2 linked regions of the Homo sapiens genome follow. The main gene of each other region encodes a partner of the protein of the gene in region 2 in a complex. Each region holds a gene or a part of one and is shown on either strand. Other genes may lie near its edges.

Region 1 (2,927 bases), on a different chromosome or scaffold from region 2:
ATAAAAAAGTATAAATATATATAATATATATATATATATATAAATATAAATAAAAAATAAAAAGAAAGAAAAGTACTGTTTCTGGGGCACCATGAGATACTCTCGGACTACGCAGGGCAGTAAACAAACACGTGAGTACCCACATGTGCCATACACTGTGCCTGGCTCTGGGAAGACCACAGAGAGGAACAGGCACCGTCTTTCCCTTCATTAGGCCTATAGTCTCGTGGAGGGAGGCACACTAAATATAAAACAGAAAATTATAGTTAACTCCCTAAAATACACATATAGGAATCTGATCTTGACTGAGTAGTCAGGAAGGGTTTTGCTAAGAAAGTTATCCTTGAGCTAAGAATACAAGCATGAGTGGGCATTAAGTAGGCAAAGGTGGGATACGTGGTGGTGTGGGGAAGGTATATTCACTTTGTTGAGAGTTTTGCTGCCTAAAAGGATTCTAAGAAACTTAGAAGTCAGGACCTTATTTCCTAATTTGGCCCACAGGTATGGCTTTGTTGGTCTTCTGTCTGTGTGTATAGGGGCTGAGGAAAGGTGGGGTGAATGAGACTCACTGGCCTGAGGAGACAGACCAAAGTCCTCTACCCTTTTTTTTTTTTTTTTAAACACAAGGTCTTGTTCCGTTGCCCAAGCTGGAGTGCAGTGGTGTGATCATGGCTCACTGCAGCCTCGACTTCCTGAGCTCAAGCAATCCCCCCACCTCAGCCTCCCATGTAGCTAGTACTACAGGCACATGCCACCATGCCCGGCTAATTTTTTTTTATGTTATTTTTTGAGGCAGAGTCTCGCTCTGTCACCCAGGCTGGAGTGCAATGGTGTGATCTTGACTCACCGCAACCTTTGCCTCCCGGGTTCAAGTGATTCTCCTGCCTCAGCCTCCAAGTAGCTGGGACTACAGGCACATGCTACCAGGACTGGCTAATTTTTTTTTTTTTTTGAGACAGAGTCTCGCTCTGTCACCCAGGCTGGAGTGCAATGCTGCAATCTCAGCTCCTTGCAACCTCCACCTCCCAGGTTCAAGCAACTCTCCTGCCTCAGCCTCCCGAGTAGCTGGGACTACAGGCATGCGCCACCACGCCTGGCTAATTTTGTTTTTTTAGTAGAGATGGGGTTTCTTCATGTTGGTCAGGCTGGTCTCGAACTCCCAACCATAGGTGATCCGCCCGTCTCAGCCTCCCAAAGTGCTGGGATTACAGGTGTGAACCACCGCACCCAGCTCTAATTTTTGTATTTTCTGTGGAGATAGGGTTTCACATGTTGCCCAGGCTAGTATTGAACTCCTGAGCTCAAGCAATCCATCTGCCTAGGCCTCCCAAAGTGCTAGAACTACAGGCATGAGCCACCACACCCAGCCCCTCAACTCTTTCTTTGCTCACCACACAATCTGCGTTCTGCGTCAGCCTCTTGAGTGTCAGGAGTGAATTGTAGGGCTGAACCACTACGTCGCTCATCTCGTCCTGGTAGGGAAACACTGAATAAGTCTGCACTAGCTTCTTGGGGTACCTGAGAGAAAAGAGGATGGTGGCATAGTGAACCGGAAGGACCCCTCCATCACTGCCCATATGTGCCATTTTGTACAAAAGGGGTGAGGGCAGAACTGAGTCTTCAGAGCCAAAAAGGATAAGCCTGAAAGCTTCAAACTCTGTAGATCCCCTCCCCTCCACAGGTAAACCCCCACCCCCCAAAATAGCTTCCAACATGGTCCTTGGGTGGGTCTGTCCCTATGACTCAAAAGGGGTAGTGGCAGACTTTCTAGCTCAAGAGAAAAAAGCAATGACATTACTCAGGGAACCAGGGTTAATGCCCTCTCCCCAAACACAGGCTTGCCTGTCATTCAGTCGCTCCAGGAGGTAGGAGCCCAGGCCAGAACCCGTACCCCCAGCGATGGAGTGACACAGCACGAAGCCCTGTGTGTATACAGGAATAAACAGACTCAGTTTCTCCTGCCACACTCTCACAACACAATTCTGATACCAGATGGGTGGGGTCTTACCACACACATCAGGTAAGCAGTCAATTCTACAGTAGATGCCAGCTGGGTATCCACTAATTCACTTCAATTCTGGACTACCTACAGACTGTCCCTGACTTAGGATGGTTTAATTTAAGATGTTTTGGCTTTATGATGGGTTTATCAGGACATAATCCCATCTTAAATCAAGAAGCATCTGAATTACAATGGTTCAATTTACAATTTTTCAACTTCATGATGGGCTTATTGGGTTATAACCTGATGCATTTCTACTTACGGTATTTTCAATTTTTTTTTTTTTTGAGACGGAGTCTTGCTCTGTCACCCAAGCTGTAGTGCAATGGCCCGATCTTGGCTCACTGCAACCTCTACCTCCTAGGTTCGAGCCATTCTCCTGCCTCAGCCTCTCAAGTAGCTGGGACTACGGGCATGTACCACCACGCCTGGCTAATTTTTTTATTTTTCGTAGATACGGGGTTTCACCATGTTGGCCAGGCTGGTCTTGAACTCCTGACCTCAAGTGATCTGCCCGCCTCGGCCTGCCAAAGTGTTGGGATTACAAGCATGAGCTACCGCACCTGTCCTCAAATTTGTTTTGGTTTTAGAGACAGGATCTCACTCAGTCCCCCAGACTGCAGTGCAGTGGTGTGATCATAGCTCACTGCAGCCTTGAATTCCTGGGCTCAAGGCATCTTCCTATCTCAGCCTCCAAGTAGCTTGGACTATAGGCATGTACCACCATGCCTGGATAATGTTTGTATATTTTGCAGAGATGGGGTTTCACCATGTTGCCCAGGCTGGTTTTGAACTCCTGGGCTCGGATGATCCACCTGCTTCGGCCTCCCAAAGTGCTGGGATTACAGGCATGAGCCACTGTGCCTAGTCAATATTTTCAATTTGTGATGTGTTTACATCCTGATAAACCCATTGTAAGTTGAGG
Region 2 (4,132 bases):
ATAGAAATCCGATCACTTTTTTAAAGGCATTTCAGAAATGTTTAAACCTCCTTTTATCCTAGTGACCAGGGAACCCTGAGAGCTGACCGTGCACACTCTCTGCCTCAGGTCTCCCTCCTTTTCTCTCTCTGGGTGGAAACGGTGCGGCCTTACCTGCAGACGGTGGACGAGTGGATCGTGCACGGGCACCTGTGGGATGGCGCCAGGGAGTTCATCATCCAGAGGTGAGCTGCAGCAGAGCACAAGGTCACTGGGGGCTGGCATCACCAGTTTCCTCCCCATGAAAATCAAATGCTTTCGTTAGTTTCAGACAGTACTGAGAAAGCACAGTTCACATCACAGAACTTGTCGTCATCATAGGCAAGTTCTATCTCATTTTTACGGAAGGCATCAGTAATACCAGCTGATTAGAAATATCTTTGTCCAAGTTTTGTCAGTCCGCAACTTTTCTTAAGCAAATTATATTTTTGGATGGTAGTATATTTATGGCTAGCTAGTACACACTGCTTCCCATAAAATGAGTTTAGATGATATCATATGGTTTCAGCTATTTCCATTGTAAATTATCAGTAAAGAGATACAGAAATATTACAGAGTATGCCTCTAATATATTTATTTCTCTGAATTATCTACTGATTTCTTTTACCTTAGTATATTTTACAAAACAAGGAAAATCTTAATCCATTTATGACAATTTCCCTTCAGTTAATTGATTTTTCTGAATAGAATCATATAAACAATGTAGAGCTATTTGTACTCTTTTAGCCCAATTTTAAATTATGCGGTATATTTAGATATATGGTTTCTATTGATAGCTATCCATTGAGCTCATCAGGAAGGATAACTTTAAGTCTTTAGTGTTCTGGAAGGGTAGCAATATGTATGCAATGCTCACATAAGTGAACTGACCCTTCCTTCAACTCAATCTCATATCTGTCACTGTGTTCTGATTCATCAATCTCACATGAGAATTTTTGTGAAAAATAGGACTCTGACTGTTCTTCTAGGGTGATGATTGACCATCATTTTATTGTTAAAAGTAGTCCAGTTAAGAATCTTTGTAGGGAAAATGATAGAGAAGTCTGCAAATTAGTTTCACAGCAGATGGTAAATGGATAAACTTTTATTCTTCTTCTAAAGAGGACCAAATTAGTCATATTTTAAATAATTCCAATTCAGGAAACTATTTCTACTTAAATTTTACTTACACTATTCAAAGTATTTATTCACTTTTCTCTTTAAACTGAGATGAGATTAAAACTGTCCCATTTTGCCTAAAGTTTGCTTCAGTTTACTAATAATTAATACTATGTTTTATAATGTCTGGACAACAAACTAGAACAAGTATGCTGTTTTTAAGAAAGAGAAATAAGAGTTTAAAATTCTTTTGAATCTCTTTAGAAACAAAAATGTTCCAGTTAATCACAGAGACTTCTGGTATGCAACTTACACGTTATATAGCGTATCAGAAAAGACAGAAAATGAAGAAAAAATGAGTGATAACGCTAGTGCGAGTTCCGGCAGTGACCAGGGGCCCTCCAGCAGGCAGCACACCATGGTGTCCTTCCTCAAACCTGTCCTGAAGCAGATCATAATGGCTGGCAAGTCGATGCAGCTGCTGAAGAACCTGCAGTGTGCGGAGAGCACCACCTGCCAGGCAGGAGCCAGAGGTACTTGTTCCGTCTTCCTGTGTCTCTCTTGGTGTTGGGACACCTGACCCTACTCGCTCTTGTCATCCTGATACCTAATTATTTTGTAGTTTGCAAGTCATCAAACCCTCTTATTTCGGTGGCAATTATCGTCATGGTTGAATTAGTAACCATGCTGCTCTTGATTTTTTAAAAGATTGTCTTCATTGAAAACTTTTAGTGCTGTGTTTGAAAAGGCAGTGACGATAAGTTCCACATGCATTTTCCTCACTCTGGATTCCTTAGGACTGGAACTTTAAAAAGTAATCCCCTGCCATTTCTTTTCTTTTATTATTTTTATAAATTGACATAATAATTGTACATATTCATGGGGTACATAGTGATGTTTTGATACATATATAGTGATCAGATCAGGATAATTAGCACTTCCATCATCTCAAACATTTACTACTTCTTTATGTTGGGGACATTCAGTATCCTCTTCTTTGCTATGTGCAACTCTATAATACATTATTAACTATAGTCATCCCATAGTGATACAGAGCACTAGAACTTATTCCTTCCAGCTAGCTATTTGTATCCTTTAACAAATATCTTCCTCTTTCTCCCTTCCCCCTACAAAATCCAGCATCTGGTATCCTGTTCTACTTTTTACTAATACGAGATCAACATTTTTTAGCTACCAGATGAGTGAGAACATGCAGTGTTTAACTTTCTGTTCCTGGCTTATTTCACTTAATGTCCACCATTTCCATCAGTGTTGCTGCAAACAACAGGATTCACTCTTTTATCTTCAAGATATATACATATATATATATATATATCTCACAATTTTTTTACCCATTCATCTGTTGTTGGGCACCTAGGTTGATTCCATGTCTTGGCTGTGTGAATAGTGCTGCAGTAAACATGGGGGTGCGGATGTCTCTTTGATATCCTGATTTCCTTTCCTTTGGATAAATGCCCACCAGTGGGATTGCTATATCATATAGTAGTTCTATTTGTAGTTTTTTGAGGAACCGCCAAACTGTTCTCCATGGTGTCTGTACTAGTTTATGTTCCCACCAACATTGTGTAAGAGTTTCCTTTTCTCCACATCCTCACCAGCATTTATTTTTTGTCTTCGTGATAAATAACCATCCTGACTGGGGTGAAATGATACCTCATTGTGGTTTTGATTTGCATTTTCCCTAATAATTAGTGATGCTGAGCATTTTTTCATCTATTTCTTGGCCATTTGTATTACTTCTTTGGAGAAATGTCTGTTCAGATCATTTGCCTTTTTTTTTTTTTTTTCCTGAGACAGAGTTTTACTCCCATCACCCAGGCTGGAGTGCAGTGGTGCAATCTGGGCTCACTGCAAGCTCTGCCTCCCTGGCTCAAGTGATTCTCCTGCTTCAGCCTCCTGAGCAGCTGGGATTATAGGCACCCGCCACCACACCCGGCTGATTTTTTGTGTTTTTAGTAGAGACGAGGTTTCACCATGTTGGCCAGGCTGATCTCGAACTCCTGACCTCAAGTGATCTGCCCGCCTTGGCCTCCCAGAGTGCTGGGATTACAGGCGTGAGCCACCGTGCCTGGCCTCATTCATTGAATTCTTTCACTGTAAAATTTGTTTGTTAAACATCTGTTTCTGTTGAATTTCTCATTCAAATCATTCTTTTCCTGATTTTGTTGAGTGTTTATTTGTACTGTCTTGTATCTCACCGAGTTCTCTTGTATCTCACCGAGTTTCCTTAAGATTTTAATTCTGAATTATTTTTCCGGCATTTCCTATATCATTGTAGTCTCTTGCTAGAGAATTATTGGTTTTCTTGGGAGGTGTCATGTTTCTTTGCTTTTTCATGTTTGATGTATTTCTACATTGATTTCTACACATCTGGTGGGAAAGTCACCTTTTCCAATTTTATGGAGTACGTTTTGTAAAGAGTTATTCATATGAATGGGTCTTGGAGTGTGGGTTCAGTGGGATGCATTCACCTTGGTTCTGGACAAATGCAGTAGTATAGTCTCCATGTACTTTCTTCAGTTGTAATCCACTTTAGTGATGTTTGCAAGTGCCTCAGTGGCCTACAGTGAGGGGGTTTGTGGCAACAGTGGCACAGTTGGCTGGGCGTGGTGGCTCACGCCTATAATCCCAGCACTTTCTTTTTTGAGACAGTCTTGCTCTATTACCTAGGCTGGAGTGCAGTGGCATGATCTCGGCTCACTGCAAACTCTGCCTCCTGGGTTCAAGTCATTCTCTTGCCTCAGTCTCTCAAGTAGATGGGATTACAGGCATGTGCCACCACGCCTGGCTAATTTTTGTATTTTTAGTAGCGATCGGGTTTTACCATGTTGGTGAGGCTGATCTCAAACTCCTAGCCTCAAGCAATCCACCCGCCTCGGCCTCCCAAAGTATTGGGATTGCAGGCGTGAGCCATCACGCCCAGCCAATCCCAGCACTTTCGGAGGCCAAGGCAGGTGGATTACTTGAGGCCAGG

The links. The genes of interacting proteins can lie anywhere in the genome.
Region 1: TUBGCP5 (region 2) and TUBG2 share a complex: the UniProt entries of both Homo sapiens proteins name them as parts of the gamma-tubulin ring complex.

Annotation. Positions count from the first base shown.
Region 1 is NC_000017.11:42,661,968-42,664,894, reverse strand, and holds part of TUBG2 (tubulin gamma-2 chain), read right to left. Parts: intron 1,923-2,927; coding exon 1,843-1,922; intron 1,519-1,842; coding exon 1,392-1,518; intron 1-1,391. UniProt on the Homo sapiens protein: Tubulin is the major constituent of microtubules, protein filaments consisting of alpha- and beta-tubulin heterodimers. Gamma-tubulin is a key component of the gamma-tubulin ring complex (gTuRC) which mediates microtubule nucleation.
Region 2 is NC_000015.10:23,015,311-23,019,442, reverse strand, and holds part of TUBGCP5 (gamma-tubulin complex component 5), read left to right. Parts: intron 1-62; coding exon of another isoform or gene 63-108; coding exon 109-224; intron 225-1,401; coding exon 1,402-1,670; intron 1,671-4,132. UniProt on the Homo sapiens protein: Component of the gamma-tubulin ring complex (gTuRC) which mediates microtubule nucleation.